Homo sapiens: one gene and its partners. The protein of the gene in region 3 purifies or fractionates together with the protein of the main gene of each other region. This does not show direct contact. Each region holds a gene or a part of one and is shown on either strand. Other genes may lie near its edges. The genes, in order: MTCL2, CLTCL1 and ZNF169.

Evidence for each region.
Region 1: the proteins of ZNF169 (region 3) and MTCL2 purify together in Homo sapiens (affinity purification with mass spectrometry; 2 studies listed by BioGRID and IntAct, with this or other methods). This does not show direct contact.
Region 2: the proteins of ZNF169 (region 3) and CLTCL1 purify together in Homo sapiens (affinity purification with mass spectrometry; 2 studies listed by BioGRID and IntAct, with this or other methods). This does not show direct contact.

The regions. Positions count from the first base shown.
Region 1 is NC_000020.11:36,814,862-36,818,607, forward strand, and holds part of MTCL2 (microtubule cross-linking factor 2), read right to left. Parts: intron 2,609-3,746; coding exon 2,546-2,608; intron 1,447-2,545; coding exon 265-1,446; intron 1-264. UniProt on the Homo sapiens protein: Microtubule-associated factor that enables integration of the centrosomal and Golgi-associated microtubules on the Golgi membrane, supporting directional migration. Preferentially acts on the perinuclear microtubules accumulated around the Golgi.
Region 2 is NC_000022.11:19,222,101-19,225,846, reverse strand, and holds part of CLTCL1 (clathrin heavy chain 2), read left to right. Parts: intron 1-213; coding exon 214-394; intron 395-1,792; coding exon 1,793-1,956; intron 1,957-3,037; coding exon 3,038-3,163; intron 3,164-3,746. UniProt on the Homo sapiens protein: Clathrin is the major protein of the polyhedral coat of coated pits and vesicles. Two different adapter protein complexes link the clathrin lattice either to the plasma membrane or to the trans-Golgi network.
Region 3 is NC_000009.12:94,257,719-94,261,464, reverse strand, and holds the start of ZNF169 (zinc finger protein 169), read right to left. Parts: upstream 2,168-3,746; 5' UTR 2,120-2,167; intron 1-2,119. UniProt on the Homo sapiens protein: May be involved in transcriptional regulation.

The DNA of each region.
Region 1 (3,746 bases), on a different chromosome or scaffold from region 3:
GGGTGACAGAGCGAGACTCCGTCTCAAAAAAAATAAAAAATAAATAAAAATTAGCTGGGTGTGGTGGTGCTCACTTGTAGTCCCAGGTACTCAGGAGAGTGAGGGGGGGAGAATGGCTAGAGCCCAGGATATCGAGGCTGCAGTGAACTGAGATTGCACCACTGCACTTCAGCCTGGCCAGCGGGGAGAGACCCTATCTCAAGAAAAACAAAACAAAACAAAGGAAAAAAATAAATAATAGGATCTGTGCATGAGGCACCTTACCTGAAAGTCTGAGCCAAGGTCTTTTGCCAGAAGAATCTCCTTAGAGAGCCCCTGGGAGCCCAAGGGGGGCAGTGATGAGAAGGACTCCTGCTGTTCCTTGACAGAGCACCCGAGGACTGCATCTGCCTTCCGCGTGAAGGCATTCAGCTCCTGCTGCAGCACGCTCAGGCGCACCAGGATGGCATGGATGAGCTTGGTGTCCCTGGGGCCCTCGCTGTTGTCGGGGGCCTCATGCAGCCGGAAGTCAGCACACTCGTTGTCCAGACACAGCCGGAGGCCAGCCGTGAAGCCATTGGCATCAGCCACCAGGACATCGATGGCCTTACTGACCAGGGCGGCCTGCTCTCTCAGCCCAGGCAGCACCTCGGCCTCCCTGGCTCTGCAGAGTCGGACCGCATGGGACTCGTGTGTCTCGCCCAGGGGAGCAGGCACACACTGGGCAGAGTCCCCGGCCTCGGCGTCCGTCTCCAGCATGGGCCGCGTACTCTGGCAGGAGGCGAGGTCACAGCGCTGGAGGTTGGAGAGGAGCACGCGGTTCTCGTACTGCAGCTTCTTGACCTTGCCGCTGAGCTCGCCGATCTGCAGCTTGGCGGCCGCCAGCTCCTCCTGTGAAGGTTCGCTGAGCACAGAACAACTGTCCTCCGACAGCGCCACGTCCAGCTCGTGCTCCGAGCGGAACTTGGCCAGCTCGTTCAGCAGCAGCTTGTTCTGGTCCTCGAGCTCGGCAGAGGAGCGCCGCAGCAGCTCGGCCTCCTCTTCGACAAACTGCAGGTGTCGCCGCAGCTCTGCCAAGCTCTCCCCGCACTCTCCGCCACCCAGCGCGGAGAAGGCCAGGCGTGCCTCAGGACCCCCACAGCCACCTCCATGATCCTTCATGTCGTCCATCTCAGCCCGCAGGCCTCGGTTCTCCACCTCCAGCTCCACGATGCGGCGGCTCAGCAGGTTGGCTTCCTCCTCCACCAGCTTCAGGTGCACCTTCAGCTCGGTCTCCCGCGAGTGGGGGGCATCGGCCAGCTCCTCGGCTGACAGCGCGCTGTCCAGGTCCCCATAGAGCGAGCGGTACTTCAGCAGCTCCTCCTTCATGCTGTCATTCTCCTTGGCAAGCTTAGTGAGCTTCTTGCACATGAGGGCTGACTCCTCCTTTGCAAAGTGCAACTGGCACTTCAGGTCTGCACTGTCCTCCTGGGACCACAGAGACAGACACAACCCAGGAAGGTTAGTGCTGGGAGTCTCAGTACCAGCCATGGCATTTTGGGGAGCACTATGTGCTGGGAACACAGGGATGAATCAGACACAGCCAGACCCTCAAGGAGCTAAGGGTCCGGGGGAGACGCAGAGGGGTAGATGTTGAAATGACAGCAAGGATGGGGCGCCACACATAGCCTGGGAGTACAGGAACAGGTGACATACTGATGAGCAACTGCTGCCACTACAGTTTCATCAGTAAAATGGGGCGGTAACATTACCTCCCTCCCAGAGCCACAGACGGGATTAAATGAGCTAAGGATGAAAAGGGCCTGGCACTCTGACAATCCCATACCACTAGGAGCTAACGGTATGTGGCCTTTGCTGCATATAGTACTTCATCCAATTCTTCCAATGAACCCCCAAGACAGGGATAGATAGGAAATGGAGCCCAGAAACTCAAAATGACTCGCTCCAATCACATGGCAGTCAAGTGGCAGAGCCAAGATTCAAGCCTGGGTCTCCAACTCTAGACCTTTGGATTTGACTGTAGTGCTGCTTGCTAAGTTCCTGGCTGGGGTGGGGAGCGAGCATCTAAGCATCTAAGAACCATGGGCTCAGGATGTGGTTTTGGGAAATAAAGTGGGCAGTGAAACTAAGAAAATGAGCAAGGGGGCCGGGCGCAGTGGCTCACACCTGTAATCCCAGAACTTTGGGAGGCCGAGGCAGGTGGATTGCTTGAGGCCAGGAGTTCAAGACCAGCCTGGTCAACACGGTGAAACCCTGTCTCTACTAAAAATACAAAAATTAGCCAGGTGTGGTGGTGCACGCCTGTAGTCCCAGCTACTCGGGAGGCTGAGGCATGAAAATTGCTTGAACCTGGGAGGTAGAGGTTGCAGTGAGCTGAGATTGTGCCACTGCACTGCAGCCTGGGCAAGAGAGTGTGACTCCGTCTCAAAAAAAAAAAAAAAAAAGAAAAGAAAAAAAGGAAAATGAGCAAGGGGAGGACAGGGCAGAATCTGGGATCCCCAGGCCACTTAGAGTCAGGCTCAGGTCTTCAGAATAAAACCTTCCTACGGGGGCTGCTGGGAATTACCTGCACCAAAGTCTTCTTATCGGCCTTCCCCAGGGAGCGGGTTCCTCTTTTCTTCAAGGAATGCTGAAGTGAGATTTAATTAAAAAAAAAAAAAAAAGTCAGGACTGAAAGCTCACAGAATGATGCACATGCAGAGAGCTGTCACAGTGCCCAGGGTCCAGGGAGGGCCCCAGTCCCCAGGCCACCCCACCCTGATGGCACTGACTGTTGAGTAAGAGGAGCCCTCCAGATCACCCAGTGAGCAGCAATGGGAGATAGGCCAGAAGCATTGGAGAAGATGATTCTAAAAACACCTGCTCAGGGCTCCTCCCCTCCAGCCTGCTCCCATGTGTGACCCAGTTGGCCTCGGCGAAGACTTGGAAAGCTGTGTTTCTGTTCTCATTTGTCTTTCATCAAAGGATTTCCTGAGCACCTATCAAGCGCCAGGTAGGTAGGTGTAGAGAACACAGCAGTGAACCAGGGAGGATGTTGTGGTGCTTTGCCCAGATTCCCCTTCGGAACTGAGACACTCATTCCCAGAGCTGAGACCTCAAAGCTGAGTACCTCTCCCAGCGACAGCCATTGGTTGAGGAGAACCACCTTGTCCAAGGGCAGGTGCTATCCGTGGATGGAGCCCACATCCAGGGATGGGTCCATGACCCCTTGCCTCAGCTCTACAGGGAGGGCCATCCTAGCTCCAGAGCTCCCCATGGGATCGCCTGAGATCACTGGTGTAATTCAGCTTCCAGCTCTGCCTCACTCCCTGTGGTGTTGTTCCCAAGGAGACTCTTCCATAAACCTCTGCATGCAAATCTCCATCTCAGAGAAAATCCTGTCTTCATGAAACTGACATCTAGTGGGAACTGTAATTCAGAATGAATACTAATGGATAAAATGAATATGGAGGCTGGATGTGGTAGTTCATGCCTGTAATCCCAACACTTTGGGAGGCCAAGACAGGAGGATTGCCTGAGGCCAAGAGTTTGAGACCAGCCTGGCCAACATAGCAAGACCCTGTCTCAAAGAACAAACAACAACAATAAAATGAATATAACAAATCGTAATTACACATGAGGCTTAGAAATGGTCATAAGAGACTGATGGCAAACAGTGATTCAAAAATCCAGAAGCTGGTCTGGCATAGTGGCTCATGCCTGTAATCCCAGTACTTTGGGAGGCTGAGGTGAGAGGATTGCTTGCATTGAGGAGTTTGAGACTAGCC
Region 2 (3,746 bases), on a different chromosome or scaffold from region 3:
TCCAGGTGAACAGTTTAGATCAGTGTCTTTTCCCAGCTTTACTCCTTGCTCCTACTTTTTCCCGTGATGGATAGTTGCTTTTCAACCCCTTTATGTGGAAATTCTCTGTATTTTTGACACTCAGGGGAACAGGAGAATGACCTAGTTATTTTCCAAGTGTTAGCAATCTTTAGAGTGGTGCATCGTTGTGGACAGACTCTTCCTTGTTCCCAGTGGCTTGTCAATTTCTTTGGCTCCTTATCGGTGGAGGATTCTGTGGAGTGTCTGCATGCCATGCTGTCTGCTAACATCAGACAGAACCTTCAGCTGTGTGTGCAGGTGGCCTCTAAGTACCACGAGCAGCTGGGCACGCAGGCCCTGGTGGAGCTCTTTGAATCCTTCAAGAGTTACAAAGGTAAACCATGCAGCCTCTCGCCGACCCCACCATGTGACTACACCTCCTTTCTCAGGTGTTGCTGCCTACCTGCCCGCCTTAAGACGGCCTTCCTGCAAAGCCAGGCAGGATGCAGCACTGGCTGCCTTGGGTGCTCAGTCGGTGGCAGAATGCTACTGCCATCTCATGTGCACCCTCAGCTTCAGTAACCTTTTTGGTATTTCCAAAGGAAGAAATCAGGTTGGTTGGTGATGGGATGGAGAAACTTATGGAGCCCGGTGTGTCTACGCAGCACAGTCTGGCAAGAATTCATCTAAAAGCCTGTGTCGTGGGTACAGTGAAAGGGCCTGATGTCTGGTCTTTACAGCCCCAGGAGGGAGGCTCTTTGGGCCTCTCCTAAATGAGAGCCCACGATAGAGGGTGCATTGCTTTGTGGTGTCTGCTACCCAGTTGATTGTGGGGGGCTGACAAGGTAACCTGGTTGTCTTCCTTTCCCCTTCTTGGACATCACACCAAAAAAGTGTTCTAGGGCAGTTGGGATGGGAGTGGCTTTGTTAGGGACAGATGGGGGCTGTCTGGCCCACCCAGGATAGAGACTAAGCATTTGTCTAGGCATCAAGCCACTGCCATGTGTCCAGTGAGGTTGGGGCATCGGTGGAGGGTGGGACATGACCCTGTCCTCAGGGAACTGGCCTTCTCTTTAGAAGACACCCCTGTAGGAAAGACCATGGCAGACGATTGAGTGGAGCTGGGCTGGGAGAGGGCAGTAGAGTAGGTTGGTGGAGAACCGTCAGCCCAGGGGCTGCCCATTCCCTTCCTAGCATCAGGGTCTCACAGTTACAGTGAAAGACCTCGACAGGGAGGGGCCTTCTCAGATGTGTCGTACCCTGTTGTTACTGGTGCCTCCTGGCTGGCCTCTGTAATGATGAGGAACATCATTAGCCTCTGTGAATGCTGTCCTCTGGGGCTCACCCTGGGGCTCAGCATGTGGTGCCCATGTCACTGTCAGCTCTGTGTTGAGTTGCAGGCCTCCTCCTGGAGGCCATGGCTTATTTCTCTGTCCCTTGATGTGTCTTTTTAGAGAAGCAGTCCCACCACCATTTCAGATTACCTCAGTGGGAATTACTCTTGATGACGACTATCTAGGTATACCTGGGCCCACAAAAGGAATTTCACTTGTACCAAATATCTAGTATTTTACATCAAAACATGCCAGGTATACCTGCCAAATATAATGGAAATCCGACTAGCTATTTTTGGGAGCTGCCAAAACAGACAAATGGCATATTGATTATGAGTTCTGAGTGTGCTGTGGGTCCCTGGAGAGTGGAGCAGGGTCATCGAGGGAAGGTGGGCAGCAGCTACGGAGGAGACAGGCAGGTGTTACAAGGACAAAAATGGAATGGTCTCTCTTCATAGGCCTCTTCTACTTCCTGGGCTCAATCGTGAACTTCAGCCAAGACCCAGATGTGCATCTGAAATACATTCAGGCTGCCTGTAAGACAGGGCAGATCAAGGAGGTGGAGAGGATATGCCGAGAGAGCAGCTGCTACAACCCAGAGCGTGTGAAGAACTTCCTGAAGGTGTGTTCCAGTGCTGCCTCCTTCCATGAGCTGCCCTTGCTGATGGCAGGTGGGGCAGACCATCCGCAGGACGTCCCAGGGGCAGGAAGCTGGATCTGTCTCGCCAGGGACCCCTTAGTCCCAGGGACAGAGCTCCACTTTATGGCTTAAAGTTCTAAAGTAACCCTTCTATCGTTTTAAGAGTGTGGAAAGCAGCTTGAGGCTGTGCTCTAAGTATCTGGCACTTATTGCTGCATTGTAATTCATCAACATCCCATTAGTGCCATTGTCAATTAGGCAGGCAAAGCTGCAGAAACAAGTAGACCACTCAGCACTAGTGTCATAAAGAACAGGAAGCCTACTTCCTTATGTGGCAGTCCAGGGTAGGCTGGAGGTCAGTGGGGTGACTTTCCTTCCCACTGTACTTCAAGGACCAGCTTCATGGCTGCTTTGCCGTGTTCAGCACCTCACCTGGATGTCGTCTTCCCAGTCAGCTAGAGGAAGGGAAGAGCACAGAGGAACCAGCATAGGTGGTTTTTATGGGCGAGGCCTGCAAGTGGCAGATGACACTTGGATTCACGTTCCATTGGAGGAAATGAGGTCATGTGGCCACACTTAAAACTTCAAAATGTGATCTAGGCACGGGACCACATGAGGGGAGGCATGATTGTGGTGGCCTGTGGCTGTCCTACCCAAGTGCCATCATCATCTGGGAATGGTGGCCGGGTGTGTTTCCATGGCCTGCGGCTGCGTGTCTGAAAAGGCAGCCCTTACCGCAGGTGTGCTGTTCTTGAGAATGGCCTGGTTTCTGTTGGGTTTGCACATAATGAGCTGCTTGTCTTAAAAGATATTTTTGTCCAGATTTGGAATGTTAATGCCAAATGTAGCAGTCTTTAACCAAATACTAATATCTTTCTCTCACTTATTTCCCAAAGCAAATGCCATACCACAAAACGACAGCCTATTTAGAGCAGTCTCATTCTGAGTCTCCTGTGTGTCACTCTGCTGCAGAGACAGAGCCGTCCCATGTGTGCAATGAGTCCGAGGTCTGGCTGTCTGGTTTCTCCACTCCCTGACTTGTTCTGTGCATTCTAATCCTCAGGAGGCCAAGCTCACAGACCAGCTTCCCCTCATCATCGTGTGTGATCGTTTTGGCTTTGTCCATGACCTTGTCCTATATTTATACCGCAACAACCTGCAGAGGTACATTGAGATCTACGTGCAGAAGGTACTGCTGGCTCCCTGGAGTGACACCCGGCTGCCTCTGGGCCCCAGTCAGTGGCAGTCTTCCCCTCAGAGGCTGCCTGTAACACCTGACATTTCAGAGACTATCATTTTGAAGGGTGGTGGGTTCGTGTGCTCAGACTGCCAGAGTAGAAGACCACAGTCCAGGCAGCTGAAACAACACACATTTATTTCTCACAGTTTTGGAAGCTGGAAGTCCATGATCAGGGTGTCGGCAGGGCTGGTTTCTGGTGAAGGCTGTCTCCCACGCTTGCAGACAGCCTCCTGGCTGTGCCCTCACAGGGCCTTTCCTCTGTGCATGTGCACTCCTGGTGTCTCTTCCTCTTCTTAGAAGGACACTAGTCCCATTACATTAGGGCCCCACCCTTGACATTGATTACCTTCTTAAACACCCTCTTTCCAAGTAGAATCCCACTAGGGGTTAGGACATCAGCAGGTGAATTTTGGTGGGACACAGCGCAGTGCTAAACAGGAGCCCTTTCAGGGTTTTGCCCAAACTGTCCACGTCGTAGGAGGCTTCTAACAATAACTTGTGTTTGCAACACTGAAGTTACTTGACCTTGACT
Region 3 (3,746 bases):
GAGAAGTTAGAAATAAGAGTAGGTCTTGGCCGGGCGCAGTGGCTCACGCTTGTAATCCCAGCACTTTGGGAGGCCGAGGCCGGTGGATCAGGAGGTCAGGAGTTCAAGACCAGCCTGACCAACATGGTGAAACCCCGTCTCGAGCGGGGTGCGGTGGCTCACGCCTGAAATCCCAGCACTTTGGGAGGCCGAGGCGGGCGGATCACGAGGTCGGGAGATCGAGACCATCCTAGCCAACATGGTAAAAACACAAAAATTAGCCAGGTGTGGTAGCGCGTGCCTGTAGTCCCAGCTACTCGGGAGGCTGAGGCAGGAGAATACCTTGAACCCGGGAGGCGGAGTTTGCAGTGAGCCGAGATCGCGCCGCGCCACCCCACTGCACTCCAGCCTGGCGACAGAGCAAGACTCCCTCTCAAAACAAACAAACAAACAAACAAACAAAAAACAAACCCCGTCTCTACTAAAAATACAAAAAAAATTAGCCGGGCGTGGTGGCGGGCGCCTGTGGTACCAGCTACTCAGGAGCCTGAGGCAGAGAATTGCTTGAACCCGGGAGGCCGTGGTTGCAGTGAGCTGAGATCACTCCACTGCACTCCAGCCTGGGCGACAGAGTGAGACTTCATCTCAAAAAAAAAAAAAAAAAAAAAAAAAATGTAGGTTTGGATGCCTTCCACCCAACTTCTTCCCCCACCTCCAGGAATTCAAGGAGTCACTCAACAGCCCCCTGAGGCTTGAGAAAAATGTTCCTTGGCCCTATGGGCACCATTCTGCTTGTTGCAACCCATGCTCCCGGAAGGGTCCCCAAGTCCGAGGGAGCCACACAGCTGCAGAAGCCGACAATCTGGATACAAGCACGCCCCCATGCAACCCACAACCCAGGGATGTCTAACTCCAGGCAAGCCCTTCTCAACTCACCAACTTGGGTCCCCAGGCCCCAAGGCTACTGACCCGAGTCGCACGGCCCTAGCCGTCCCCCCCCCCACTATCAAGACCAAGTCTGGATGTCTACCCACAAACAATCCTCCCCCACAAACCCGGGTCCTAGTGGCCAAGCTGCACCATCACCACCACAGTGCACCAGCCATCCACAAGAGCCCTAATAACTGGACTGAGGTTGGGCACGGTGGCTCACGCCTGTAATCCCAGTACTTTGGGAGGCCGAGGCGGGGGGATTACTTGAGGTCAGGAGTTCGAGACCAGCCTTGCCAACATGGTGAAACCCCGTCTCTACTAAAACACAAAATATTAGCCGGGCGTGGTGGCGTGCGCCTGTAGTCCCAGCTACTCGGGAGCCTGAGGCAGGGGAATCACGCCACTGCACTCCAGCCTGGGCGACAAGAGCGAAACTCTGTCTCAAAAAAACAAAACAAAACAAAAACCAAAAAATTAGCCGGGCGTGGTGGCGGGTGCCTGTAATCCCAGCTGCTCGGGAGGCTGACGCGGGAGCATGGCTTGAACCCGGCGGCTGGGGTGGGGCGCGGAGATTGCAGTGAACCGAGATTGCGCCACTGCACTCCAGCCTGGGCGACAGAGAGAGACTCTGTTTCAAAAATAAATAAATAAATAAATAAAATTTAATAAATAAACAAATAAACAACCCGACTGATGCCCAAGCCGCGTGCCTCCCACTAATGGGGAAGTTTGCTCCAACCGAGGATATCATGTCCTCCAAAGGCACATTTGCTGGCCCAGAGACCTCCGAGGCGCGATGGTGGGGAGGGGATGGCGGGATACTAGTGGCAGGATGCTGTCTGGGTACCCCAGGCAGAGCCCACTCAGCGGCCCCCGAAGTACCGGGGACGCACCTGCGAAGTAGCTCGGGAAGTCGGTCCCAGGCCTGCACTGGCCCCTCCAGGTCAACATACTGGGCCCAAAGTCCCGCCAGAAGCACGCGACAACGCCAACGCCCCCTCCCCACCAGAGGACCTCCGCCAAGACCTCTCTCCGGGGTGGACCACGCACGCCCAGACCCCACAGCCGAAACTCAAAACACCAAGGAACATGTGGCCACGACATGGACTGCCCATGCCAGCTTTCCCGACCTTCCTTCCAGTGGAAGGCCCGCGAAAGCGGGGACCACCTCCGGGCTAGCTCACCAGAACTGTGAAAGGACACTCACCACGCACCAGGCGACGATGCCGGAACGCGGAAGTACGCGAGCCGGACTGCCCCTGGGCACGGAACTACACTACCCAGACTGCCACGGGGCGCGCAACTACCCTACCGTGGATGCCCTGGAGCGAGGGACTACAACATCCAGAATGCTGCGAGGGGCGGGACCGCAGCATCCAGGAGAAATTGTGAAAAATCAGAAAGTAAAATCTAACTTTCGGGTCTATGAGAAGGGTGGTCAGGTGAGCAGTAAGTCTTCTTTAACTTTTTATACGGTCCTTCTAATTTTTTTTTTTTTTAAAAAGATGTTACATGTCCTCCATCCTGCAAATTCACACCTGTGATTGTACACCCCTGAACTTTATCTACTTACTTATTTTTTGAGAAGGGGTCTTGCTCTGTCGGCCAGGCTGCAGTACAATGGTGTGATCATAGCTCACTGCAGCCTCAAACCCCTGGCCAAGCAATCCTCTCACCTCAACTTTCTGAGTAGCTGGGAATACAGGTGCATAGCACCACACCGGGCTAATTTTTTGTTTTGTTTTTTAGAATCTGGGTCTCGCGGCCGGGCGCGGTGGCTCACGCCTGTAATCCCAGCACTTTGGGAGGCTGAGGCGGGCGGATCAGAGGTCAGGAGTTCGAGAGCAGCCTGGCCAATGTGGTAAAATCCCGTCTCTACTAAAAATACAAAAATTACCTGGGCGTCGTGATGGGCGCCTGTAGTCCCGGCTACTCAGGAGGGTGAGGCAGGAGAATCACTTTGAACTCGGGAGGTGGAGGTTGCAGTGAGCCAAGATCGCACCACTGTACTCCAGCCTGGACAACAGAGTGAGATTCCTTCTCAAGGGGGAAAAAAAAAAAAAAGAATCTGGGTCTCGCTATGTTGACCAGGCTGGTCTGGAACTCCTGGCCTCAAGCAATTTTCCCACTTCAGGCTCCCAAAGTGCTGGGATTACAGGCGTGAGCCGTCCTTGTGGCCCAGGCTGCCTTTCGAGTTTATTTAGGGCCCTCTAGCCAGAGGTGGTGAGATTGGCAGTAACTCAAATTCCAACTGCTGGGATAGGTGATTCTCCTCGGGCTAAGGCTGGTGTAAATACTCCCTCCATGCGTGAGAATCAGCTGTGTTTGATCCAGTTTTGCTTTCTGGTATAACAGGGCAGCACTGAGTTCAATGCAATGTCTCATCATTGCTGTGCTTGCCGTCTCCCAAGAACATAGATTCTCTCTCCGCACCACAGAGCCACTGCTGGGGGATGGGTCAGGGGCATTGGTGATTCAAGACTGTCTTTCCTACCTTTTCAGTGCCTCTTTCAGTCATATGAAGTAAAAACCAGGTACTGCGAGTGCTTACCTGATTTTTGGTTCTTGTGAAGGTGCTTTTGTGTGTAAATAGTTGTTAACTTGTTTTTCTTACAAGGGGGAATGATCAGTGGAGCCTTCCATTCCACCATCTTGCTCCACCTCCCACCCCCATGTTTTAAATGACAGTGTGTATGAATGTACTTCTAAAAATGCCAAAAATACTGGGGTTTTTTTTCCTGTTATAAAGAAGAAGATTCTGAAGTTTTTTTTTTAATTCCAATTGATTACAAGAAGATAAGGAAAAACTAAACTTGAGGACATTTAACACTATA